Homo sapiens: one gene and its partners. The protein of the gene in region 1 purifies or fractionates together with the protein of each later gene. This does not show direct contact. Each region holds a gene or a part of one and is shown in the gene's direction. Other genes may lie near its edges. The genes, in order: UXS1, VPS8, GPC1, LMBR1, FAM98A, HS2ST1 and URB1.

What was found.
Region 2: the proteins of UXS1 (region 1) and VPS8 purify together in Homo sapiens (affinity purification with mass spectrometry; 2 studies listed by BioGRID and IntAct, with this or other methods). This does not show direct contact.
Region 3: the proteins of UXS1 (region 1) and GPC1 purify together in Homo sapiens (co-immunoprecipitation; 2 studies listed by IntAct). This does not show direct contact.
Region 4: the proteins of UXS1 (region 1) and LMBR1 purify together in Homo sapiens (affinity purification with mass spectrometry; 2 studies listed by BioGRID and IntAct, with this or other methods). This does not show direct contact.
Region 5: the proteins of UXS1 (region 1) and FAM98A purify together in Homo sapiens (co-immunoprecipitation; 3 studies listed by BioGRID and IntAct, with this or other methods). This does not show direct contact.
Region 6: the proteins of UXS1 (region 1) and HS2ST1 purify together in Homo sapiens (affinity purification with mass spectrometry; 2 studies listed by BioGRID and IntAct, with this or other methods). This does not show direct contact.
Region 7: the proteins of UXS1 (region 1) and URB1 purify together in Homo sapiens (co-immunoprecipitation; one large-scale study listed by IntAct). This does not show direct contact.

The regions. Positions count from the first base shown.
Region 1 is NC_000002.12:106,191,502-106,195,490, reverse strand, and holds the start of UXS1 (UDP-glucuronic acid decarboxylase 1), read left to right. Parts: upstream 1-1,189; 5' UTR 1,190-1,249; coding exon 1,250-1,343; exon of another isoform or gene 1,344-2,217; coding exon of another isoform or gene 2,218-2,293; intron 2,294-3,989. UniProt on the Homo sapiens protein: Catalyzes the NAD-dependent decarboxylation of UDP-glucuronic acid to UDP-xylose. Necessary for the biosynthesis of the core tetrasaccharide in glycosaminoglycan biosynthesis.
Region 2 is NC_000003.12:185,049,635-185,053,104, forward strand, and holds the end of VPS8 (vacuolar protein sorting-associated protein 8 homolog), read left to right. Parts: intron 1-2,241; coding exon 2,242-2,391; 3' UTR 2,392-2,970; downstream 2,971-3,470. UniProt on the Homo sapiens protein: Plays a role in vesicle-mediated protein trafficking of the endocytic membrane transport pathway.
Region 3 is NC_000002.12:240,459,663-240,463,162, forward strand, and holds part of GPC1 (glypican-1 precursor), read left to right. Parts: intron 1-2,528; coding exon 2,529-2,920; intron 2,921-3,500. UniProt on the Homo sapiens protein: Cell surface proteoglycan that bears heparan sulfate. Binds, via the heparan sulfate side chains, alpha-4 (V) collagen and participates in Schwann cell myelination.
Region 4 is NC_000007.14:156,725,684-156,729,183, reverse strand, and holds part of LMBR1 (limb region 1 protein homolog), read left to right. Parts: intron 1-463; coding exon 464-540; intron 541-1,176; coding exon 1,177-1,254; intron 1,255-3,346; coding exon 3,347-3,420; intron 3,421-3,500. UniProt on the Homo sapiens protein: Putative membrane receptor.
Region 5 is NC_000002.12:33,586,230-33,589,299, reverse strand, and holds part of FAM98A (protein FAM98A), read left to right. Parts: intron 1-780; coding exon 781-965; intron 966-1,979; coding exon 1,980-2,060; intron 2,061-2,621; coding exon 2,622-2,738; intron 2,739-3,070. UniProt on the Homo sapiens protein: Positively stimulates PRMT1-induced protein arginine methylation. Involved in skeletal homeostasis. Positively regulates lysosome peripheral distribution and ruffled border formation in osteoclasts.
Region 6 is NC_000001.11:86,913,187-86,917,434, forward strand, and holds the start of HS2ST1 (heparan sulfate 2-O-sulfotransferase 1), read left to right. Parts: upstream 1-1,448; 5' UTR 1,449-1,850; coding exon 1,851-1,974; intron 1,975-4,248. UniProt on the Homo sapiens protein: Catalyzes the transfer of a sulfo group from 3'-phospho-5'-adenylyl sulfate (PAPS) to the 2-OH position of iduronic acid (IdoA) or glucuronic acid (GlcA) within the heparan sulfate (HS) chain and participates in HS biosynthesis.
Region 7 is NC_000021.9:32,390,213-32,394,460, reverse strand, and holds the start of URB1 (nucleolar pre-ribosomal-associated protein 1), read left to right. Parts: upstream 1-1,448; 5' UTR 1,449-1,550; coding exon 1,551-1,692; intron 1,693-4,248.

The DNA.
Region 1 (3,989 bases):
ATAGTTTGAAAGATGTAACATAAAGCTGCTGCTTTAGTACCAGCTGCCATATTTCCTTTTCTTGGAGGTTTCTAATAAATCTAAAGGAGGGTGATCTATTAAGTTTTGCAAAATGGCCTGAGGTTCCAAGAGGTAGGAGAGCCGCTGCTGACTTCAACTTCTCCGTATAGCTGAAGATGACCTCTTGAAGCCTGCAGATCCCAAATCCGGGATCTCTCTTAATGTGGCATCACACACATCTGTGTGTACCTGTCTTTTTTTCCTCCATGGGACCAGCTCTCTCCAGATCCAATGACAAGCTTCCGATTATCTGTGGATCTTCTGATACATCTCCTTGCTTGTAATCATCATTCAGTAAATGCTTTTTAAACACAGGTACCTCCTATGCAATCAGTACAGCACTCATAAAACAGATATACTCAACAAAAAGATTGAATGAAACACACACGACAACATGGTCAGGGTTTTTCTCTAGGCAGAGACAGCGCAATTTCATCTTTTCTTTTCCAAGTCTATCCTAAATTAATATACTTAGCACTGCTTTTTAAAATAATAATAAAAGACTATTATTAAAACAAAGGCACCCCAGTTGATCATAGCCAAGGAAAAAAAACGCAGCCAGTTTTTACTTCGGCAAGGTTTAGGGGATTTATCATTTTCGCTGCCGATATTCTAACTAAAAAAAGCCAACTAAACAGCCCAGAGAACGAGGCAACTTTCTGAGGCAGGCATTCAACTTCTAAGGCTCGGCCAAGTTTAGCAAATAAGTTTCGTTTCACTGCAACACCGGAATGCCCACCGCGTGCCCCCCTCCGGGCGGGGCTCGGAAACTGGCCACTGCAGTCGTGCCCTTGGGTTGGGGACGCACCTCAGCGAAACGAATCCAGCCGCACCTCCCGGCTGGCACCCGCGCGCTTTAACTCAGGGAAAACAGACCGGAACGCGCATGCGCCGCGGCGCGCCGCACCGCCCACCAGCCCTCCAGGTCACATTCTTCGAAAACCAAGGCAAGAAAGGCGGCAACTGCGCCTGCGGGTAGAGAAGCCGGAGGGGCGGGGGCGGAGCCGGAGGAAGGGGGTGGAGGCGCGCCTGCGCGGTGATCCCGCCAGCAGGAAGCAGGCGCGCGGGGGCGGGGGCGCGCGGCGGCAGGAGGCGGGGCTCTCGGGGCCGCTGCCGCCGCCGCCGCCGCGCATTGTGCAGCAGGCGGGCCCCCGCGCGGTAGGGCCCTGGACCCGCGCGGCTCCCGGGGATGGTGAGCAAGGCGCTGCTGCGCCTCGTGTCTGCCGTCAACCGCAGGAGGATGAAGCTGCTGCTGGGCATCGCCTTGCTGGCCTACGTCGCCTGTGAGTGCGCGCCCGCTGCCAGCTGGGGAGCCCCATTCATTCCCCGGCGCCGCGGTGGGCCGGGCGGCGGTGGTTCGGGGCCCCGAGGCGGCCCTGCAGCCCCGCGTTGCTCCCCGCCCCGGGCGGGGCCGGCGCTTTCTGCTCCCACCCCTTTCCACTCTTGCAGCAAAGCGGGCCAACTTGGGCGCACACCCCCTACCGCTTAGGCCCGGGCGCGGACCCCGGGCGGAGGGGCCCCTAGCAGTCCTCGGGCGGCCCCAGGTCTCTGCCTCCTGCCCGGGCGCGGGGGACTCGGCGGCGGCGCTGTCGTCCATGTCGCGCTGGGAGCCGGCGAGGGTCCCGGTCGGGGACTCCGGAGCGTGCCGCGTGGGGATACCCTTGGGGACAGCCGAGGTCGCGCCGCGGTGTCGGTTAAGTCGGATAAAAATACTGTGGCCATTGGCAGAGCCCCCGCTCCGACTGTTTGCTCCTCAGGAAAATTACTCAGCGTTTAACTCTTGGGGAGCCAAGTGTGGGCGGCTCCCCGGCCCGCGGCCGTGCCCAGGTGTCGGGGCGCACCGGCATCCCCATTCTAGGTTTTCCCCCGGGGCTCGGCGGCCGGGCGAAGCAGGCAGGCAGCTGGGTGGCCGGGCAGGGCGTGCCTGCAGCTTCTCTGTGCGCGGGTCCAGTTTCTGTCATCGCTCACAGCATGCTGCCTGGAGACAGGGCAGGAGGGGCACTTCGCAGGCAGGTGGTCGGCCCTCTGCTTGTTAGGGAAGTCAGAAACCGTCCTTTTAAAGATCTATTCGTTGGGAATGTTTTAATTGATGCTATTAATACGTTACCAAGTAGCAAAATTGGACTAGAAATAGCTCCCAGTGTGAGCTGCGTTTGAATGCTAGCCACCCAGACACACACTGAAATGAAATCACCTGCTAACCTGTTGGCGTTACCAAGATCTGATTCCAGAGGTGAGTGGGTACTTCACTTGTCTGAAGTGACTTCAGTTGAGCTCTAGGAAGGCAAGTATGAGTAGATCCAGCCTGTGTGCTACAGCCCAGCTGTTCAGGAGGTGGAGCTGGAAAACCCCAGCAGGACTCCGGGTTGCTAGGGGAGGTTTCAGGCGTCGGATGGGTGTTAGATGTGTGTAGTTTTGCAAGGGAGGAAGAACTAGTCTAAAGTGTGTGTGTGGTCAATCTTGAGTAAGAAAGCTGAGACCCAAGAGGAAAGACCATTTAAAGTTGAATAACTATTATTATGGCAGTAATACTACCTACATTTGTTGAGTGCTTAACTGTGTGAGTCATGATTCTTAGTGCCATTGTCTCAATCATTGAGCAACCCTGGGAAATCGGTACTATAATGATTCCTATTTTAGAGGTGAGGAAGTTAAGGCCAAGAGAGATTAGGAAATTTATGGATGATCACACAGATAGTAAGAGAAGGAGGGCCAAAATTTGAACCCAGAAAGGCCTGGGAGCAGGAGCTAGAACCCAGGTCTTCGAACAGCAGTTTCAATGTTTATTTTGGGGGTATTCTATAGTCGCTGCAAGGGTTTAGAATTAATAAAGTAGGGGATTTATGGAGCCATGGGAAGTTTTTTTTTTTTTTTTGAGACGGAGTCTCGCTCTGTTCAGCCCAGGCTGGAGTGCAGGGGCGCGATCTCGGCTCACTGCACGCTCCACCTCCCGGGTTCACGCCATTCTCCTGCCTCAGCCTCCCAAGTAACTGGGACTACAGGCACCCGCCACCACGCCCGGCTAATTTTTTGTATTTTTAGTAGAGACGGGGTTTCACCATGTTAGCCAGGATGGTCTCGATCTCCTGACCTCGTGATCCGCCTGCCTCGGCCTCCCAAAGTGCTGGGATTACAGGCGTAAGCCACCGCTCCCAGCAGGAAAGTTTTTTAACCAATCATTCATCTGACCAGGAAATCTTACCAAGTCCTTACTGTTGTCCCTGAATTTGGCACTAGGAGACACCATGGGGTGCTAAAACTTAACTGGTCTGTGCTGTGATGGTACAGACCCTATACCACATAGTGTAGCACGTTGATTCTCAGACTTAAGCATGCATCAGAATCAGTAGGGTTTTTTTTAAAAAACACAGACTGCTTGTCTCCCACCTCAAGTTTCTGATTCAGTTGGTCTGGGATGTGGCCTGAGAATCTGCATCACTAATAGGTTGTTCTGTATGCTGTTGCTGTGACCTGACACCACTTTGAGACCCACTGGCCAAGATGGTGAGGTGGGCATGAATTGGAAATGAAGGTTAAATTACAAACTGGTGTGAGGAAAAGGAATGCATGAGAACTATGCCAGGAACTCCTGAGTGAGAGCAATCAGGTACGTTTGTTTTGTTGAGGAATCAAAAGTGAGCTGAGAATGGACGGCTTATGTAGGAGTTAACAGGGAAGTCATAGGAGAGAGCGTGTTCTAGGAGGAGCAGTGTGTGCAGAGGTCCTGCGGCAGCCAAGAGCAGGCAGTATTCTAGGAATGCAAAGAAGGATGGTATTGTTGGAGTGTGAAAACAAAATTACAGCCATGAGGCTGCCCAGGCAGACAGGGGCCAGAGCAGGCAAGCAGGCAGGCAGGCCTGGGGTGCAGCCCACGACATGGTTGATTTTAGCTATGAGGGGTTTAACACAGGGTGGAGGCAGTGTTAATA
Region 2 (3,470 bases), on another chromosome or scaffold:
TGGATCTCCACCACCTAAAGAATGAGTCCAAACCCTACCATCTTCTTCACTCCCCAAATCACACCTCAATTCTAGGTGGTCCCATTTGTTCCTGAGCTTGTCTCGAGCTTGTGCAAACTGCTGTGTCCTCTGCTTCTCTACCTGGGCCCCCTTCACGCACTCCCCTTTCTTAGGCAGAACCTACTAGGTTACTTGGCAGCCGGAGGAAAGAGTGGTGCTCCTTCTTTGAGAGTTGGTGTGGGCAGAGGTTGTTATTCCAGGAAGTTTCTCTAGGGGTCTCCTGGATGCAGTCCAGCAGCTTTATTGAACTGGCCTCACCCCCATCCCTTTCCAGCCTCAGCTAAGCTCTGCCCCAGGAGTTGGGTTTCTGGGCCTTCCAAGGAGGTTCTTCTGCTTCAAACTGTTGAGCCCTTATTTAAGGCTCATTGATTTCCGGATCACAAAGTTACCAAAGTGGAACACAAAAATATCTGTTTTCCTGGGAAATAATTTTTTTTTTTTTTTTTTGCAATTGATCTTCCCACCTCACAGTGTCAGGATGTGAAAGCATTGAGTTGAGCGTCTGTGGCTCATTCTGTTCAAGGCATCGTACATAACAGTCATTGCAGAGAACGTCGCAGGCTGATGGGCAACTGAGAGGGTTACGGAAGAAGGAAGTGGCACGAAGTGGACTCTTGGCCCCTGGAGTAGTGCTTGAGTCAGAGTTACTGAGTTGTGAATGAGACCATACATGTGTCTCTGGGCCAGGACCTGGACCACTTTTGATAAATTGACACTTAGAACTTAGGGGCCTTCAGATGTCTTCCCAGTTACCACAGCCACTGGTACTGAGTTTTCCACAGAAGTGACACATGGACACGTGAGCTTGTGCCACCATTGCCTGTGTGAGGGAAAAACCCTTTGCCAGAGGTCGGAGGGCACCTCGAAGACATGGTGCCTGGCGGGTGAATCCCACACCGCCACTCACTGCTGGTGACCGAGGGCAAGTCACTGTGTTGTGAAGGATGAGAAATAACACACATGTCAAGGATCTAGCAAAGTGCCTGTCATGGAAAGACACTTGATACAGTCACCAGAGGTTGTTAGACATCCCCTCGGACTCCTGGAGTGTTTGGTAGACACAGACAGGGCTGCCCTGAGGAGTCTGATGGCCCCCTCGTCTCAGCTGTACACTCCCCATGGACCAGGCTTTCACTGGCCTCCATGTGAGCCTACACAGGGTCCCTTAGAGTGTTGGTAGTGGACACAGTGGCCCATCCCACAGGTCCCAACTACTGTTATTAGGGACCATTTTGACCTGGGCTCTGAGTTCTCCTTCACATTAGCTCTGTGGGGTGGAAGTTAACTCACAATGTTCTGGGAAGCAACAGGCAAAGACCCTAATCAGGCAGGAAGTCTAAGGACCTTGGGTGTAGAATTCGTCTCTCCTCTGACCATCAAGGGCACCTCAAGAGCCAGGCTGCCAGCTCCCTACTTTCGCAGAAAGCCTCTTTAGGTGAAAGGGATGGTCCCCCTGAGTGGCAGAGCACTGGCTTCCCAACAGGCCGACATTAGCATCTCCTCCTACCCTTCTGTCCTCCTTGGCAGGTCTTCCAGAATTGAGCCACTGACAGAACGAGGGTACTGCTAGTGTCATTGGTGGGAATAAGGAAGCTGGGAGCAAAGAGGACTCACTTGAAGGAGAAGGTAGAATCCAGGGGTTCCACTCTGGAACCCCTGAGTTTGAGTTGGCAGCTGGGTGTCTGTTTGAGGCCTTCCAGGTTACAGAAGAGAGGTCAGAGCCAGTGGTCATAATTAGTCATTCACCCCGAGGAGAGTGCACCAAGATGGAGAGGTTGGAACAAGCAGAGCTGAGAACAGAGCTCCTCAGCCCAGGGCGCGTCCACAGGGAGAGAAGGGTGGCAGCAGGGCCATCCACAGCAGCTGGAGGAGCCCTCAGCACAGGGCCAGCCCAGGGTGGGAGAGCTCTCCAGTGCCAGAGAGAGCACAGTTTGAGTGCCCTTGGGAGCAAACCAGTCCAGTCTCATTATTGAATGAGGAAATTTAGACCCTAAAAAATGAAGTGAACTTGCCCAAAGTCACACTGCTCGTTTGTGATATATGGACCTAAGATTCAAACCCTGCATGTTACTACTCCTGCAACACAGCACTGTCTCTCATGTATCTGAAGCAGTGGATTCAGGAGCCTCTCTTCCCTCTGCTCCCCACAAACCTTAGCTGATGTGTGTCCTTCCTTTGCAGCTGGCTCTCCTCACGGAACTCTCCCAGAATCGCAGCAGCGAGAGCTATAGGCCATTCAGTGGCTCGCAGAGTGCTCCTGCTTTCAACAGCATCTTCCAGAATGAGAACTTCCAGCTGCAGCTCATTCCTCCACCTGTGACTGAGGATTGATGACTCCATGGAGCCTGGCCCAGGAGAACCAGAGATGATCCCGAGGCAGCTGGGGAGAGGCCCCGCCTCTGGTGGGCTTGGCCTCCACCACCTCCCACGCTTCTGAGAAGAGGTTCCAAATTGGGCTTCTGTGCCCAGAGCGTCCACAGCACCATTCCCAGTGTAGACTCCCAGTCTTCTCCACATTGCTGTCATGGCGTCAGTTCACCAGACTCATTGATTTTGTTTTGCTTGTTAAGCAAAGGAATGTCACATACCTCTGTCCAGCTTTTTAGGAAATACATTTCGCCTATTGCGACTTTTTCCATTTACCCTGAAGCCTAGAAAGTAGGTGGAACTCACACAAATGGCATTCCAGAGTCTGCCATACTCCGTCTCCTCCAGCTGCTGGATAATACAGAGGAACTTCAACTTCTACAGGGAACAGTGGTTGGCCAGGCTGCAGTATAACTGAAGCATGCCTTGGAGAGAGCAGACACTGTGGGGGCCAGGGCCATCTCCCTTTAATGTGTTCATGTTAAAACCTATTTGAGTGTAAGACTTGCCCTTTCTAACAATAAATGCTCCGTGTTTAAGTTCTGCAGGTCTCCTGGCTGGCTGGCTCTCAGTCTGTCAAGTCATGGAGGACATTTCGAGCCCTGTTGTCACAATTTTATTAGCTCAAAGTCAGGAATCCTGCCTGTGACAACCCTCCTTAATTCAGATAAGCAGCTCCATTGTCAGCTGTATTCAGAGCAGCCCAGCCACCCATATGCTCCCGTGACAGGCGCTGGGCTGCCAAAGAGAATAGTACTCAGTTTTTGGCCATGGGACTTCGTATATCATTGAACCAACTGCCACAGGAGGTCGCCACACCCAGACACCTAGGTTTCCACCTTACATACTCAGATGATCCTTTTCTCAGTGCAATGGAATCGTCAGGCTCTCATGGACTGATACTAACCAAACCCACAGGAAATAGATACATAAACTAGGTAGAAATTTTTTTTTTTTTGAGACAGAGTTTCACTCTTGCTGCTCAGGCTGGAGTGCAGTGGTGCTGTCTTGGCTCACTGCAAGCTCCGTCTCCCAGGTTCAAG
Region 3 (3,500 bases), about 130 Mb from region 1:
TGGCCGCCACTCAGCCCTTTATATCGGGGCAGGAGTCTGGGGGCCGCGGGGAGTGACCCCTGCAGGCCTTGAGGCCCCGCCAGCTGCTGCATTAGAGCCACGTACTCCTCGGCCCAGGCTGGGCCTCGCCTTGTGTCTGGGCAGAGAGTGGCAGCCACCCCCAGGGGGACAGTGTGGGGTCAGGAGGTCCTCCATGAAGTGACCTCTGATCAGAAACACGAGGACTTGGTGGAGGGAGGCGGCCCGGGCTGAGGTACTGCCCCTGTGTCCGGGCGGAGCCAGGGCGCCGGGACAGTGAGCCTGGGCAGACAGGAGGGAGGGAGCGCTGAGGCTGCAGGGCTCCATTGTGGCTGTGAGGGACGGCAGCTGCTGCTGGGGCCCTGGGGTTTGTCTCAGCGTTCCTGCTTCTCCGGCTCCTGGACACCTGCTGTGGCCTCCCAGGCTCCCGGGAGAGTCTGCCTGTCCCCAGGAGCCCCCAAGGCCATTTCCACAGGGCTGTGGGACCTCAGCTGTTGGCGTACACCTGGGTAGCAGTGGGTCAGAAGCTCCCTCTCTGTGACTTGGACATCGATGCTCAGAGCTCAGCCCTCCCCGCTGGTGTGGGGCCCGTGGGATGCGCGTGGCCCCTCTGGGACTCTCCTTCCTCCTGCCCAGCTGGACCCGGGGAGCGAGCCCCTGCACCCTGAGTCAGGAGCCTTCCTGAGCCACTTGGTTCTGTCCCATGTGTAGGGACCCGGCTCACCTCCTCCACTCTATCCTGGGCCTCAGTTTCTCCCCAGCGCCGCTGAGCCCTGGCTCCCGCCCCAGCGTGCCACCCAGCCCTGCCCCTTCCCCTCTCCTGCTAATACCCTTGCCCATCACACCATCCTCCTGGCCTGGGGACATCCTGCCCGCCTGCTTCCTCCTGGCTCTTAGGGGGTTGGTGTCGCTGCCCTGCTCTGGGGCCTGTCCCGTGTCAGTGCCCTGCCGCCGCCCTCCCTCTGCTGCCCTCTGGAAGCCTCCAGCCTTCCTGTTCAACTCTCCTATCTTTGACCTGAAAACACAGACACCCTTTGGGGACATTTGTATTAAAAATGACCCACTATGTGATGTGCCCAAGGCCCACCTGTGCCCCTACCCCAGGGAGTCTTGTCCAACCCCCACCTCCTATGTCCTCCCCTCCCACCCCTGCCCATGGCAGCTGCTGTCCCCTCCCAGCCTCCGGGGCAGCTGAGGGCCCCTGGGTCTTTGTCTGCAGTGCTGGTGGGAACCAGTGGGAGGCGGTAGGAGGGGAGCCTGGCTGGACCTCTGGTTGCTGTGTTCAGGGATTTGGAGCCCTGTGTCCGCCCCCCCACCAGCCTTCAGGAGCAGCTGAATGGGTTCTGGCAGGAGGTAGAGCTGGGGACTGCACCTGGATTTGGCCCATGGCCCTCTAGGTGTGTCTGGGCTAATGCATGAACCACAAGCCGCCCCTTTCCGGGACAGGCCAGGGCGTTCCAGGCGCCAGGACCCAAGGTGGACACTGGACAGCTGTGTGGCCCGTCCACCCTCCCCACAGCGGCCTGGGAGCTCTCTGTAGCCCTGCCAGCCCTGAAGCCCCAGGCCTTGCCAGGGGTCAGCGTGGGGGCTGATCCAGAGATCTCAGGCTTGACGGCCCCCGTGCCTCAAAGGAGAGCCTCTGCCCTGCTACCCTGGAGCACCTTGTGGTGGGCCATCGAGCCCCCGGTACCTGTGGGGCAAAGCCGGCCACAGCCCTAGGGACGCTCTGAGCAGTTACAGACCTGGAAGTCCCACTTCCAAATGGGATGGGGAAGTCCAGGGTCCCATCTAGGCCCGGGGTACGGGGGCTTTTCCCTAAAGCCCCTGCAGCACATGTGGAGGTCTGAGGGTGAGCCTGTGCCTCCACACCCCCTGCCCAGCAGGGGAGATGTCTGGGGTTCTAGGCTGCAGGAGGCCCCCCAGAGCCCTCAGACAGGCCCGGGGTGCTCACAGCTGAAGCTTCTAAATCGCAGAAGCTGAGAGAAGACAAGAAGCCTAGGAGAGCAGCCGAGACAGGGTGGCGGGAGGGGCAGCAGCCCTGGAGACTCGCAGGGCAGGCGGCTGGGGCCACGGGGAGCACAAGTGGGGACCAGTGGAGAGAAGGAGCGGCTGGCAGGGGGGCACAGACCGGCCCTGCCCCTCTTACCCCAGTGAGTCCCCATCTCCACCAGCAGCCCCTCCCTGGGTGTTCTCAGGGGGTCACTGAGTCACAGAGCATCTGTTCTGCCCAGGGCTCAGCTCAGAAACTGCCACTGGAGCCCCAGTCAGAGGCCCTGAGACCCGAGAGGACCCCCTGCCACCTGGGCCCCTGCTCCCCAGGCCAGGGGGTGAGGTCTCGGGGCGCCCCATGGATGCCCACAGGGCCCACAGCCGCTGCAGTGTGGCGTCCGACTCCGAGGTCCTCAGAGTGTATCCTCAGAGCTGAGTCTCCCGGGCTGAGTCCCCTGCTCTGGTCCAGCTGCCACGGCGGGGGAAACATGGTCCCGATCACGCCCCCTCCCTGTGCGCAGACCACTTCCAGCACCTGCTGAACGACTCGGAGCGGACGCTGCAGGCCACCTTCCCCGGCGCCTTCGGAGAGCTGTACACGCAGAACGCGAGGGCCTTCCGGGACCTGTACTCAGAGCTGCGCCTGTACTACCGCGGTGCCAACCTGCACCTGGAGGAGACGCTGGCCGAGTTCTGGGCCCGCCTGCTCGAGCGCCTCTTCAAGCAGCTGCACCCCCAGCTGCTGCTGCCTGATGACTACCTGGACTGCCTGGGCAAGCAGGCCGAGGCGCTGCGGCCCTTCGGGGAGGCCCCGAGAGAGCTGCGCCTGCGGGCCACCCGTGCCTTCGTGGCTGCTCGCTCCTTTGTGCAGGGCCTGGGCGTGGCCAGCGACGTGGTCCGGAAAGTGGCTCAGGTGCGCACAGCCACCCAGGGCTCTCAGAAACCCCTCCAGACCCCCATGCTCTGCCCAAGGGACTTCCTCTTCCCCCTACTTTAACCCTGTGCCCCTGGGCCTCTGGGCCAGCCTCTGACCTCAGCCCCACAGCCTCAGTCCCTCCTGCATTGGCTGCTGCCCATGGCCTGCTAACAGCGTACCCACAGATGTGAGCCTTGCTCTGGGCAGGCGGCTCTGGGCTGGCCCATCCCTGCCCAGAACCATCATGGGCCAGGATGGGAAGGGCCAGGGGCTGGGGCTGGACGCTGAGCCAGGCTGTGGAGTGAAAGTGCAGAGGAGACAGAAGAGAACAACATGCGTGGGGGCCGGGCAGGGTGGGGCCCCAGAGCCTCGCAGGCCAGGGGGATGCCTTGGTCCCTTGCGGGGCACGTGTCAGACCCAGCTAAGCTGGGACATAGGGAGGGCGTCAGCCTCAGACCCACATGCCCTGGGTGGGAACTGCCCCCACCTCCAGGCTCCTGGGCAAGTCATGCCTTGGTTTCCTCAGCGGCATGCGGGTGAGGATATTCTTGCCTCCCTGTGACCCTCGAGATCATTA
Region 4 (3,500 bases), on another chromosome or scaffold:
GTGTTTAATGTAGCAAACTGGTTTTAAAACTCTGATTTTTGTCTGGGTATCGTAGTTCGTGCCTGTAATCTCACCATGTTAGGAAGCTGAGCGGGGAGGATCGTTTGAGCCCAGGAGTTCAAGACCAGCCTGGGCAACATAGCAAGAACCTGTCTCCACAAAAAATAAATAAAAAAATTAGCCAGGCATGGTGGCATGTATCTGTAGTCCCAGCTACTTGGGTGGTTGAGATGGGAGGATCACTTGAGCCTAGGAGGTTGCAGTGAGCTGCGGCTATACCATTGTGCTCTAGCCTGGGTGACAGAGCAAGGCCCTATCTGTAGTTTTTTTAGTTTATGGAGGAAAATTAAAAGTAATTTATGTTTTTTAAAAAGAAATTATGTATAAAACAGATTATAGCATTATGGAAGGAAAATGTTAATTTGGAGAAAACTTTGTTTTATTTTGTTTTTCCTTTTAATAGAGAGGCGAAAAAAGGCTTCAGCATGGGAAAGAAATTTGGTGTATCCCGCTGTTATGGTTCTCCTTCTTATTGAGACAGTAAGAATTTATTTGCCTAGTTAAATAAAAGCAAATTATATTTTATTTACTTCAGCATTTGAGTATGGCAGCTCCCTCAGCTAAATGGTTTTTCATAAACTAGTTTTCTATCAACAGGATTAAAATCCATCTATGCCTTTATTTATGAAAATCCAATAAAGCAAAAATGGAAATTAATGGCAATTTAAAAAAAATTCTGAAGATTATCTGTTTCTTCATGAAAGCAGGAAATTCAGTCTTTGTTTTCATTGAAAATTAAGAAAACAAGGTGTTGCAGATAACCTGCTTTAAATTCTGTGATAAAATATGAAAATTACATTATGAAGTTAGTTCTGATAATATTTTACCACTTTTTTAAGTCTGTGGAGTTGTGTGTTTCCAATTGGTGAGATCACTTAGTAAAAGGATCTATATACTACCAGCTTTTGTCACAAGCTTTGAAATGACAATAACTTGCAGAATCTTTTAGAATTTCTTCAGTTCTTGTTTGTAGTCTGATTACTTTAGTTTTATATATAGCGTTTTGGTCTTGACTGCTTTCCCTCTATTCTGAAACGTGTATTTGGTTACCTAGATTTTAATATTTTGTATTGGTGAAAAATCTTGAGAGCTGACAGTTTGCTGTTTGTCTTGTAGTCCATCTCGGTCCTCTTGGTGGCTTGTAATATTCTTTGCCTATTGGTTGATGAAACAGCAATGCCAAAAGGAACAAGGGTAAAGTAAAATCCTTTAAAATGTCTTTCTTTTGCAAAAGTATTCTATGTCTATACCCTGAGTATTTCAAGTAAGCAAATGAAAACATTCACCTTTGTGCATGTATATACTTCAAGTTGTATGAATTTCTTTATGCAAAGAGCCTTTAAAATATAAACTGTGATTTTTGTTTCTAATTTTTTACTTTGGATTGACAGGGCCTTTTTTCAAGTGTTGGAATTTCCTTTTAGATTTCTTATCAGAGTTTATCTTGATTTTACTGAAATTCATTTAGCTATATGAAATTCCTTTAGCCATAGTCTTGATTCAGATCCCCCCACCTGAGTCTTTCCAGGACCTTGTGCCATCTGTTATTGCCATTGTTGTATTCACTTACAGCCTCTTCTCCATGAGTACAAGCCCACCATCATGCTCCAGGTGCCTCATCCTACAGACAGACAAGAAACTACCCTTTGCCATGTACAGTCTTATCTTTTTCTTTAGTTTTATACCCAAACCCACTGATAGAACAGGAAGTCGCTTACTATACTGACTTCCTAGTCACTTTTAACCCATTTTACTATACCAACAAAACAAGTCCCAAGCCCTATAGTATATTTTTGTACCCATCCCCCTTAGTGCTTAGTGGAGAATGACTTGTACGTCATAGGAGATCCCTGTATAATTGTGTAAAAAAATTAGATACTCTTAATCCTTCCTACATGGCTTCTCTTGAGATAGCATAATTCCAAAGTATTATCTCTGTTGATCAATAAGCTTCTGTAGGGGAGAAGAAGTAATACCTTTTTCTAACCTATTGGAAGGTTCATGGCTGAGATGCCTATAACAAAAGATTAATAAGAGAAAAGCTGACAAACTTATTTAAGATAAGTTTTACATATCACAGGGGTCTTCAGAAATAAAGAAGACCAAAGAAACAGAAAAAGCTGTGTACTTTTATGCTCTGGTTTGTTGAAGAGTGGACAGTAGTGGGAAGTATGATTGGAAGACAGGGGTGTGATCTAATGATTATAAACCGGGGGGATTTAGCAAGGCCTGTTCATATTCTTCTCGGTGTCCTCGTGTCTCCGGAGATAAACATGTGCTTCTCCTCTGGGTGGGTTGCGGGGGGCACCCTTGGATGGGGGTCTTATGGCCTGCTTCGCAGGAGAAGGAGACAGATCAGTGTGTGACCTTCCTAGGTTTTCTCAAATACCAGGTCCCAAATTTTGGAGTAGTGTGTCTTGAACCCCATCACTTTCTACCAGCATCATTTATTTCTTCTTCAAAAGATTGTCAAAAAGTTATTTTTTATTGGGCTGACTGTAGATTCTTAATTATCCCTGGTGTTTCTATTAGATGTAATCTGTGCTGACTAGTAAAACATTCAGATAGTTTCTTTTATTAGTAATCTTTGAAAATACTTCAGTAGGGAATGATTTTTTCAGATCTAATTATAAAAATAGTAACTTTTTTGTGTTTTTTTTTTAAGTTCTAGGTAAAGATAGTTTTTGAGATAGGGATAATTGTTTAGGAAAAAATTTATAGCATTACTTTTTTAAAAATCTATGTTAACAGTTACATCCTTTGTAACTCTGAATTCCCAAGGAAAATTTGGGCAAAGGAAACTTTCAGGTATGGGAACAGGATATGCACATTTACTCTCTTTCTACTCTTAGCTTAATTTTGACATACTTGAATTGTGTAATCTTTGTATATTGTGTAAGCATTCAGATAGCTATGTATCCTATTCTTATTTTTCTATTGTGTTTTTAAAAACTCTTTCCCAAAACTATTCAGGATTTTTTTCCTCAAGTGGCAAGTTGCCCCATTTTATAACAGTAAGCATAATCATGTCATCTTGACAAGTAACTTAAATTACATTTGAGATAAGTAATTTTTCTTGAGCTTATTAAAATTGTTAACATGGTGCCTGAATTTGTTGATGAAATCAGTCTAATGTCATGTCTTGTTGGCCTTTGAAAGTCTAGATGTTATTTCAAAGTAGTAAACATTCATAATTTCAACTGTCTTATTTTATGAAACAGCTGTTTTAGGGAAACCAATATAATGGTGTCATCAAATTCTGAAAAGTGTCTTTCTCCCACCCCAGGGGCCTGGAATAGGAAATGCCTCTCTTTCTACGTTTGGTTTTGTGGGAGCTGCGCTTGAAATCATTTTGATTTTGTATCCTTTCTTTAACTGAACGTTCAGCCTATCCACAAATTTTATACCAAGTTTTCTGGGGCAGTAGTTATTTACTAAGA
Region 5 (3,070 bases), about 73 Mb from region 1:
TGAATTACCTGAAACAGATTGCAGCCCCCATTATACCAGGCTGAAATCAGCACACAAGGGGATGATACTGACACAAAGGGAACCATGCCAAAAAGTGCTTTGAAGGTTTTATGGTTGTTTTGAAGGGAATGGGGTGAGGAAAGTAGGGGGAAGGGAGTCCTGAGAAGAATATAGATGAAAGAGGGCTCTCTTTGATTAGCCAGAGGGCAACATAAGATTTGGAGACCATGGGAAAGGAGCTCTGGGGTGCCTTCCTGCTTCTCCTGTGAGTTAAGCTTTGACTTCTTATAAATGTTGTTTCACACCTCTTCTGGACAGGCTCCTAATTAATGGGAGACAAGAGAGCAAGGTAGTTGTGTCATTGATGCTCACAAGTAGTGAGAAGTTAAAAAAAAAAAATTAATTGTCATTAAAAATTGGTCACCTGCCTTCTTTTGCAAAATTTTTAACAGATGCCAACCCCTGTTCTGGAGGTTCCTTAATACCAGAATTCAAGATTCCAAATTTTTAGATGTTACTTACCTCGATCCTTCGGTTTCAAAGAGAATCGCTTATTTTAAAATTAACATTTAAACATTATATATCGCTTAAATAACTGAATTACATAACCAGTTTATTTCTTATTTCATTTGCAGGTAAAAGTAGTTTTTCTTTCTTGTTTTTATCCATTCTTGCAGCTTTAACAGTTACATATCAATAGGTCTATATAGTTGTGACTCCAGACTTATGACTATAACTATAGCTGTATCTCATTTTGAAATCTTATTTTGTTTACTTCAGCATACCTCATCTCAGAACTAGAAGCTGCCAGAATGCTCTGTGTGAATGCTCCTCCAAAAAAAGCTCAAGAAGGAGGCGGTAGTGAGGTCTTTCAAGAGTTGAAAGGCATATGTATTGCTCTAGGAATGTCCAAACCTCCAGCCAATATAACTATGTTCCAATTCTTCAGCGGGATTGAAAAAAAAGTAAGACCTTTAGTACCAAATTGTAGTGTATTAAAGGCATAGTCCTACATTTGTTTGAAATGAAGCAATTAATTTAATTTCTCTTAATGGGAACCTAATGTGCATATATTATTAAGTAATTGTTACGAAATGAGTTTTGGGTTTTAAATCCTAGATGCCTTAAAGATAAATTAGTATTTTAGTATTTTCCTAAAAACATGTTAGCATGTTTCTTTTTCAAAAAGGAAACTTTACACTGGTTTGTAAGCTAAAGTAAGCTAGATATAATGTAAAAAGGATTAAGATTTCAGTCCTTTTAAAAATTATTTTATCATTGAACTTTGATACAGTCAATTTAAGTTCTTTATCACTAAATGTTACCACCCTCCTCCCCATTGACTGGACAGAAAGGATATTAATATTTTTGTTTTTTAATCCAGTCACTTCAAACCTCATGCTTCAATTGACAAAATAGATTTGTTGACTGCTAACATAATCTAGTATGTGAAAAGAAATTAGAATTATTTTTATACCACACATTATCAGTTAAGATTTTCTATATAATTAATTAGGAACAAGCAATTTTAACAAAAATGAGTAGAAGAGAACGGTATTTGTTAAAGCACAGTTATTCCCTATACGCTTATCTGCTGGACTCTTAAGAATTGGTACATTTGCATTGTGGGGTAGACCAGCACCATGATGCACAAATTTGGCTGAACTCTACAGGGGAGCAGCAGTGTATCCATAGTCCATATTTTCCTGTGTGTTCATTCATCCATTCAGCAAATGTTCATTGAGTGCCTACTGTTGTCAGGCACTGTTCTAGGTGCAATGAAGGACTTCTGTAGGCGTGAGGAGTGGGACCAGTGAGTGTCTTTATCTTGTGGGTCTTTTACATTTGCATTTCAAAACATCCTCCACCTTTGCCTCTGTCAGGAATCTTCTTTTGATGGCAAGATATGATGGGAATTGGGAAGATGAGGATGTTTTACTTTTAGAGTTTTTATTCATTTATTTATGTTTTTGTGTCAGTTAAAGGAAACATTAGCAAAAGTTCCACCTAATCATGTGGGAAAGCCTTTACTGAAGAAGCCAATGGGACCAGCCCACTGGGTGAGTAGTAATCATCTTGAGTAAACTTTGTAAAGAACTATAGAGTTTATGATTTTCATGTCAACACTTACATTTTGTGCTTTTTAAATTATGTTTTCTTATACATAGTTTTCTAGTTGAACACCCTTAGAATCATTTTGTGAATCTCAGGATTTCTGCAGAATATTTTTATTTGTGTAAGATTAGAAGCACTTTTCTCATACTTTGTAAATATTTCACACAGCTGATAAAAGTAAACTGAAATTAAGTATGGTGCATGTTTCTCGTTGCCAAATGGATTGCCTTCAAGCCAAAAACTTCACTGGGCTGAGCTTCACACAGTAAATTATGGGAAAGATAAATAAGAATTGTGTACTTCACATACTCTTCATTATGTTTTGTGAATCAGCTTTTTGTCACCTATCATTTCATTAATTGTTAGTATATTATATGGAATAAGAACTTTTGACTGTTAAATGGCCGGGATCTCAGTTATGAATGACACAGACGTAGTTTTTGCCCTTTTGGGACAGAGAATCAAGCAGATTTAAACTCTAACTAGTCTTTTTAATTTTGCTTCAGGAAAAGATAGAAGCAATTAACCAAGCCATAGCCAATGAATATGAAGTCCGGAGAAAGCTGCTAATAAAACGTTTGGATGTCACTGTACAATCCTTTGGCTGGTCTGACAGAGCTAAGGTACACATTAAATAATTTAAAAGAGCAGACTATTTATAGACATGATCCCTGAACATCTAAACAATTTAGCTACTTGGCAACTATGGGAGAAGTACATAGAAGACACACATAGGGATTTTTCCTTAGTGAGTTATTGAGTAGTGGCTCTTTCAACTATTCAGCAATGATGAAAACATTTATTTTTCAATTTTCTATTTTTTAACAAATCTGAATTTTACAGTTCTTATTGGAGAGAGAAGTTCTTATTATGAGAGAAATGGAGTTATTCTGAAAATTACTAAAATAATAAATTGATTTCAAATTACTTGTTTACTTTAAATAATTTAATTTGC
Region 6 (4,248 bases), on another chromosome or scaffold:
GATAAGTAAATTAAACCAGGTCTCCTTATTAGAGACTACCCGAAGAATTAAGCTAGGATAAAAAAACGTAAAAGCTTTCAGCACTGTGCCTAAAATTTTACTATTCACACAGCAGAACATGGATATGAGAAGAAATAAGTTAAAAGTACACTTTTCCCATTCAAAGGTCACCCATCTATTCTGCCAATAGAGAAAAATGAAATAAAAAACGCTGCCTTAAAGAAGACAACGAACATCATTTAAAAAACTAACTTCAAAAATGAATTATACTTTGGTATAGATAACTCCTTTTACTCCAACAACATTGTTTAAAAGCACAAATCGCACTCAAGCGCAGCCAGCCGTATATGAATAGCAGAGGAGAACGGAAGTTAAGAGACTAACAGAAGTAGTGAAAATGAGAGAGCACGCGCGCGAGAGAGGTAAACACAAACTGTTCGCCTGGACCAACGACTTGAAGACTTGCCTCTAAGAGTTGGAAGTCTCGTCATGAGTCTCTTGCATTTCTGTCCATTTAAAAACAACCTCCACTTCTTGCCAAGCTTTATTATTCCCCCCTCCCACCTGGTGTGGTTTACAGATTGTTTTTAGCAAGAGCCGTATAAGAGAAGCTACGTACCCAAGACAATCTGAAATCAAGAGAAAACTGCTGCTAGAAACCCAAGGCGGGGAAGGAGAAGGATCAACCGAGAAATTAAGCCACGTTGCATTCTGGCCGCAGCAGTCATTAAGGAAGCGCAGTCCTCCCCACCCTTTTCAACCAGGACCGAATGTTGCGTCTTTCTCAGCTGCAATCACTCCTACTCTCCCTGTGGCAGCTGCGAAGGTGATCTACACTCACCGCTTGAAGCACAGTCGCCAACAACAACCGTAGCCCAAACGCCGGCACCAGACACCCACTCGGCCCAGCCGCCATCGCTACCATTTTCCGCAGGTTTCTGGCTGCCTAGAAGGACCCCTAAGCTAGGGGCGTCCACTCCAGAGCCTGATCCAAAACAGAACGCTAACGGCCGTTGCCCTTACATCTCTCATTTGGAAGTGACAGGTATTAAATAACGGCATATGAAAGCTTAAAAGTCATCAAATACAATCACTGGGTGCTTTCGATTACCCAAATCAGGCACTTGCCTAAACTCCCCACTTCTTTACTTCTGCGGTCTCCTTTCTTTTATTCACGACACTTCGTCAAGCAGCCAAGAAGCCACGCCTTCGCCAGTTTTAGCCCCGCCTTCTTCTCCAAGTTTACCCAATTGAATGTCGTCTTGATTGAGCTCTGTGGCAGAGGAAACCAACCGTAAACCGAACCAAGAGCGAAGCGCAGGGGCTCTTCCGTCCAATAAGCGGACCCGAACGGGGGGAGGGGCGGGGCTTCTGGTTGCCGAGCAGCGTACGCGGATGCGTGCGCGTGGTGGCGGAGGGGGATGGGCGGGGGCGGGGATGAGGGCGGCGCAGCCGCAGCGCCGGTGGAGGGGCGCGCGGCCGCGAGCAAAGGAGGGAGGGAAGGAAGGAAGAGAGGGAGGCGGGCAAGCAGGCGGGCGCGGGGGTCGGGGACTGAGGCAGTAGAGGGAGGCGAGAGCCCGGCAGCCGCTTCGCGCTGTTTGCTGCGCGGGCTTTTGGAGGGGGCGGCCGTTTAGTCGGCTGAGGAGAAGCGGACACCAGCGGCGTTGGTGATAGCGCCTGGGGGAGGGGGACTGGAGAGGCGAGAAGGGGGGTCGCTGCGGTGGTTCTCTCGCTGTCGCTCTCTCTTTGCCTCGCTCCCGGCTCGGCGGGCTCCTCCCGGCGTCTCTCTCGCCTCCGGGGTCCCGCTCCCCGCCCCCCGCGGTATGTCTTGATCCCGAGCAGCGGGTTTCATGGGGCTCCTCAGGATTATGATGCCGCCCAAGTTGCAGCTGCTGGCGGTGGTGGCCTTCGCGGTGGCGATGCTCTTCTTGGAAAACCAGATCCAGAAACTGGAGGAGTCCCGCTCGAAGCTAGGTGAGGAACTGAACTGCCCCGGGCTGAGTGCTGTGGAAGGGGCCGAGGAGGCGCTGCCGCCGGAGCAAGTGGGCGTTCATCTAACCTGGGGTCTGGCTCGGGGGCTGAAAGCGGTTTCAAAGAGAACCGGGAACAAGGGGCAGCGAGAGCACGAGCTCCAAGAATGGGTTGAATTAAGCTTGAGCGGCGTGCTGGGCTCGCGAGGTCACGGGGCAGAGGTTGCAAGGTTGGGCTTCCCTAGCCAAAGGGTAGCCCCGAAGTAGGCATTCCGCGGAGAGAGAGCGAGAGAGAAGACCGAACTCAGTGGGGAGCGTGTGTTGCTGGTCTCCGGAGACAGAAGCGCTTAGCATCGCGTGTTCTCTTGGAAGTCGTACAGGAAGCCCTGGCAATGTCAGATGAGGGGTATTCTAATTTGAGCTATGGGCATCTGGATACGAATTCTTTTGGGGGCTCATGAAGGGATAGGTGCGCAGAAATGGGAGGAGATGCTGGGATGACGGAGAGCAACATGTGAACACTGTAGCGAGTTGCACTCTTGTGCTCCGGGCAGCAAAGGACCTTGTAATTGCCAGCTGAGGGAGGCTGGCCGGGTAGTGCGGGAACGCGAGTGCAAAGCTTCATCGGAGTACGGAAATGAGGGTCCGGAGATTTAAATTCTTCTTTAGTGGCGCTAAACTGATGAATTGGGGCTTGAGAATAGGGATGCCTATGTATGTTGCTTCACGGCAGTGTTGATGTGAATTTCGAAGAGGAGGGAACGCTGAAGGGGAATTATGTAGTGAAGTTTGTGTTTGTTAAAGGAAAAGTAGGATTATGCGGAAAGCTAACCATATGGTTAAATACCTTAAAGGGTTAACAGGTGCTTTAATGGATGAGGGGGTCTAAAGTACAAAAAGTTGGTGTGAAGTTGTGAAAGACAGGCCAGAAAAAAGCACAGATAATAGGTACTTTCGGATTAATAGGGCACTTTGGCATTTGGAAGAGCTCAGCATGGAGAGCGAGAGTTAAAAGAATGACAGTGATAAATTTTGATTTAAAAATGTACATGGCACTTAAAAATCAGCTCAAGAGGATGTAATTTGAATATGGAAAAGTAATGTGAAGTGTTTTTTGCATACTCTCACCTCAAAATCATTTTAAATACCTTTTGAGAAGCCAGCAAAAACAAAAACAAAAAACCCTCAGCAGTGTAATTTAGACTAAGAAATAGATGTTACTGTGAGTGGATGATTAATTTTTAGGAAAAATGTACCAGAAAATAATTGTAATATTATGTATAGTAGCTATTTTGGTACAAGGCTTTGCAAAAGCCTTGACATTTTAAAGAGCCTTGAAAGAAAAACCATCAAGTAAATCTGAGTGAAGTGCAACTAAAGTTGGAGGAAAACTAGAGTTACTTCCAGCCCTCAATTCTAGAGTAAAATTTGAAGAGATACTCAGTTTATTTACGAATTCCTTTATTAATATGTATCTTGTGTGGTGGAAAAAAATGTCCACTTTAAATATTGAAGGTTATCCAGTCTGGTTTTTCTTTTCTTTTGGATCCATTTAGCGACATTCAGGGTCATATTCTGGCGTTATTAATGATCCAGCTCTACAGAAAAAAAGACTCCTCTTGAAGTGGAAAGTTATATTAAAATTAAAATTTGTACTTATTTTTTGTTTTGTTACTATTTGGAATTGTCTGGAGTTGATTTCTTAGACACGTTACAGTGGGTTAGAATGACTTAAATTTTTGATTTTCCTCCTTTCCTAACATTTCTTTCCCCATATACTTGAAAATTGCTTCCATAGACACAATCTGAATGATTTTTAAAAGAAAGTTATCTGAAGATGTATAATGCCACAGTTAAAATATAAAGTGCTTTCTTGTGATACAAGAAAGAAAATTTCATAAAAAGTAGTAAATATGCATCAAAATCCTCCTGGGACTACAGATGGGTATACCTGGGAGTACAGGTGGGTGTTACCATGCCTAGCAGAGGAAACCATATTTTGACAACCATATTCTGTACTAGGCACTTTTCATCGTAGATACTCGTGTTTAAAGTAAGAACACCATTTAAAGCCATTTTTGACCAGACACGGTGGCTCACGCCTGTAATCCCAGCACTTTGGGAGGCCGAGGCCGGCGGATCATTTGAGGTCAGGAGTTCGAGACCAGCCTCGCCAACATGGTGAAACCCTATCTCTACTAAAAATACAAAAATTAGTCGGGCGGGGTGGCGGGCGCCTGTAATCCCACCTACTCAGGAGGCTAAGGCATGAGAACCG
Region 7 (4,248 bases), on another chromosome or scaffold:
TGGGACCACCATGGCAGAAAACAAAGTTGGTGGTTAGCGATTAACCAAAGAAGAGGACCAGTGTGGATAATCAGTCAGAATTAAGTCTGTATTCACTAATGAGTGTTGCCTTTTACAGATGACTTTTTGAGCATATTCCCCTCTCTTAACATTGCTGCATTAGCTCATATCTGCTAGGGGTGACACCCTCTCTCTGACCTGCCTACAACATAGACATCTCCACAGGCACAATCATCTTGTCGGGACAGAGGCTCAGCGTCAACACACGTGCTTTTTCTACTAGAAACTCTGAGACCCCAACAGGCCACAAAAGCCCACATCCTCAGATGTTCAAAACACATCTGCTTACAGAATATGAAACACAATTTTCTTAGACTAGAGGACAACCTGATGGAGAATTTCAGTAATCACCAAGTTACTTATCTAATGCGCTGGTTCATGATTTATTTGGACACATACCTAAGTATCGATGAAGTCGTATTAAAATATGTACCAGCCTGTTTTTACTTATTTTTACTTTCATTTTATTTCAGAGCATTTAATGCGGTTTACAAATCAATCACATCTTCCAAAAACACACTGTGTTGTTTTTCTCCTCAAAGCAGTTTTTCATACATTGCATCATTTTCTGTTCATAACAGTCCCAAGGACTGGATAGGGTCGGCTTTGCTGTCTCCATTTTAATGACAGGAACTTAGATGTGGAGGCCTTACGCTGTCCAGGAAGGGGTTTTACAGACGTTACTTCGTTTGGTCTTCTCCTCCCACCCTGCACGGCGCAAAGAGCCCATCAGTTTGCGGAAGTCTGGGGTGGAGGACAGTCTGGAGTGACAGGCTGCTACCAGACCAGTCGATCTGGTTCGGGCTGTGACATAAGCTAGGGGTCGAAGTCAGGGGCACCCGCACAGGCGGACCTGCCTGGCACCTAGCCAAGGCGAATCCACCTTCCCGGCCAGCCACCAGGGCCTTGAATTGGCAAAGTATCGAATCCTGTTGTGTGTGAAGCAAGCTCTTCATGCGACACCTTCAGGGCGACCTCGGGTCAAGAACTACTCATTGTGCTGCTTGGACGCGCCGGGGCCCGAGTCTTCGTGGATCGGCCAGGCCAGGAGTGAAAGGTCTGGGAGTTCTTCCGGCCAAGAGCACCCGAAGAGCCACTGGGATCAGAAATGCGCCCCGGTGGACCCCAAACCCTGCAGCCGGGGGCGGGGGGTGTCGTGGAGTGTCCGCTCGCCCCATGCCGTGACCGGGACAACCGGTACAGCAAACTCACATGGAGCCCCAAGACTCTGGATCCCCAAGACTCTGGATCCCTATCGCCCCGCCCCTTCTGCAGGCCACGCCCCTTCCGCCGGTCCCAGCCTCGCGCGGGTCGGCCCCTTCCGCCGGCCTTTCCCCGAGCCCCGCCTCTTCCGCCAGCCCCGCCTCTTCCGCCAGCCCCGCCTCTTCCTGCGCCATGTGGGCCTGAAGCGCGTGTCTGCTGTCTGTGCCAGTGCTCCTGCCGGGTCCCCTCAGGTGTGTCGTTTCCGTCGCGCTTCCGCCCTCTCGGCCATGGGGGTCCCCAAGAGGAAGGCCTCGGGCGGCCAGGACGGCGCGGCTTCCTCCGCGGGTGCAGCCAAGCGCGCCCGCAAAGAAGAGCTCACGGGCGTGCGGTTCAAGGCTCAGCTGAAGGACCCGCAGGGCCCCGGGCCAGGTGAGTCCGGGGCGGCAGGCGCAGGGTCGGGAGCACAGGCTGGCGAGGCGGCCTCCGTGTGCCGGGCACAGCCTCTCCTTTCTGCAGCTTTCGGGTCACATAGGCTCAGTGGCAAGCCTCTGGTTTGCAGAAAACTGAGGTTCAGGACTGCTGTGTACTTCCTTGCTCTGGACTGTCGGCGACAGCGAGAGGGCCCCGACTTGCTTGATTGGGACCGTTTCATGTTACAACACATTTATTTCCCTTGCCCAGGCAGCATCCCTCAGCGAGCTCTAAAACCTCTTTATTGCAGTTGTCAGGGAAGTAAATGAAGTGTCCTTCTCTATTGAGTCCTTACTGAGTCGGCTCAGGACGGTTCATGAGACAGTTTGCTACTCCTTGGGCCGTCAGCACCGTTTTCAATAGCTTCCATCCCCCAACACTCATACTGACTTGATGACTTGTAACAAGCTACTAGAAGCCACCACAGCTACTTGTCAGTTGACCAGGAATGGGCCAGTGACTGAGATGTAGCCGACTCTATAATTTAATTACACTTTTTGTAAAGTGTGACCACCCTTCGCGACTACTTGTAATCGTTTGGAAAGTAACATGGTTTGGGAAAAACGCAATTGAACGTGTTGCCATGTGGAAGCATTGCTCTAAAATAAAACAGTGGCAGTTTTTCTCCCAGGTTAAATAAACGATTAAATTAATGGCCAAAATATCTTCAACTTCCAATTTTTGTCCTCATTTTTTTTTTTAAACGACAGGGTCTTGCTCTGTTGCCCAGGCTGAAGTGCAGTGGCACTATCATAGCTCACTGCAGCCTTGAACTTCTGGGCTTAAGCTGTCCTCCCACCTCAGCCTCCCAAGTAGCTGAGATTGTAGGTGCACAACACCATGCCCAGCTATGTTTTTTTTTTTTTTTTTACTTTTTGTAGAGATGGAATCTCACTATGTTGTCCAGGCTGCCCTCGAACTCCCAGTCTCAAGCAATCTTCCCACCTTGTCTTCTCAAAGGGCTGGGAGTATAGGTATGAGCCACCACACCTGGCCTGTTTTTAAACTTTGATACCTATACCTGTACTTGCTAGTCACAGCTAGGAAGATGATACTTAGTTAGCATAGAGTTATTTATTTCCGAATTCATTAAGTATTACTAGAGGCTATTATTTGCTACGGTAGAGATAAAGTGATGAATAAAAATGTCAAAAAGCCTCTGCCATTGTGGGGTTTACAAACAGTCGAGTGGGGCAGGCAGATATTGGTCAGTAAAATCACATACATACAGTTTCAAGCACGAGTTTTCCAAAGGAGAGGTACATGGTGCCTGAGGGTGTTTAACAGACCTTGGATCTAATCTGGGAGCTCAAAGAAGGCTCCCCTGAGGAAGTGGCTTTTCTTTTCTTTTTTTTTTAATCATACTTTAAGTTTTAGGGTACATGTGCACAACGTGCCCCTTTGTTACATATGTATACATGTGCCATGTTGGTGTCCTGCACCCATTAACTCGTCATTTAACCTTAGGTATATCTCCTAATGCTGTCCCTCCCCCCTCCCCCCGACCCGACAACAGGCCCCGGTGTGTGATGTTCCCCTTCCTGTGTCCATGTGTTCTCATTGTTCAGTTCCCACCTATGAGTGAGAACATGCGGTGTTTGGTTTTTTGTCCTTGCGATAGTTTGCTGAGAATGATGGTTTCCAGCTTCATCCATGTCCCTACAAAGGACATGAACTCATCGTTTTTTATGGCTGCATAGTATTCCATGGTGTATATGTGCCACATTGTCTTAATCCAGTCTATCATTGTTGGACATTTGGGTTGGTTCCAAGTCTTTGCTATTGTGAATAGTGCCACAGTAAACGTACGTGTGCATGTGTCTTGATAGCAGTATGATTTATAATCCTTTGGGTATATACCCAGTAATGGGATGACTGGGTCAAATGGTATTTCTAGTTCTAGATCCCTGAGGAATCGCCACACTGACTTCCACAATGGTTGAACTAGTTTACAGTCCCACCAACAGTGTAAAAGTGTTCCCATTTCTCCACATCCTCTCCAGCACCTGTTGTTTCCTGACTTTTTAATGATCGCCATTCTAATTGGTGTGAGATGGTATCTCATTGTGGTTTTGATTTGCATTTCTCTGATGGATCTAATTAAACTAAAGAGCTTGTGCACAGCAAAAGAAACTACCATCAGAGTGAACAGGCGACCTACAGAATGGGAGAAAATTTTTGCAATCTACTCATCTGACAAAGGGCTAATATCCAGAATCTACAATGAACTCAAACAAATTTACAAGAAAAAAAAAAACCCCATCAAAAAGTGGGCAAAGGATATGAACAGACACTTCTCAAAAGAAGACATTTATGCAGCCAAAAGACACATGAAAAAATGCTCATCATCACTGGCCATCAGAGGAAGTGGCTTTTCAAAAGGATTGTAGGATGGGACAGGGACAGGAACCTTACTGGCAGAAGAAAGAGCACGTTTAATTGTTAAAAAGATGTAGTATCTATATTTCATGGTCTTGCACAGAGAGCCTCATGACATTCAGGTGCTACATCATT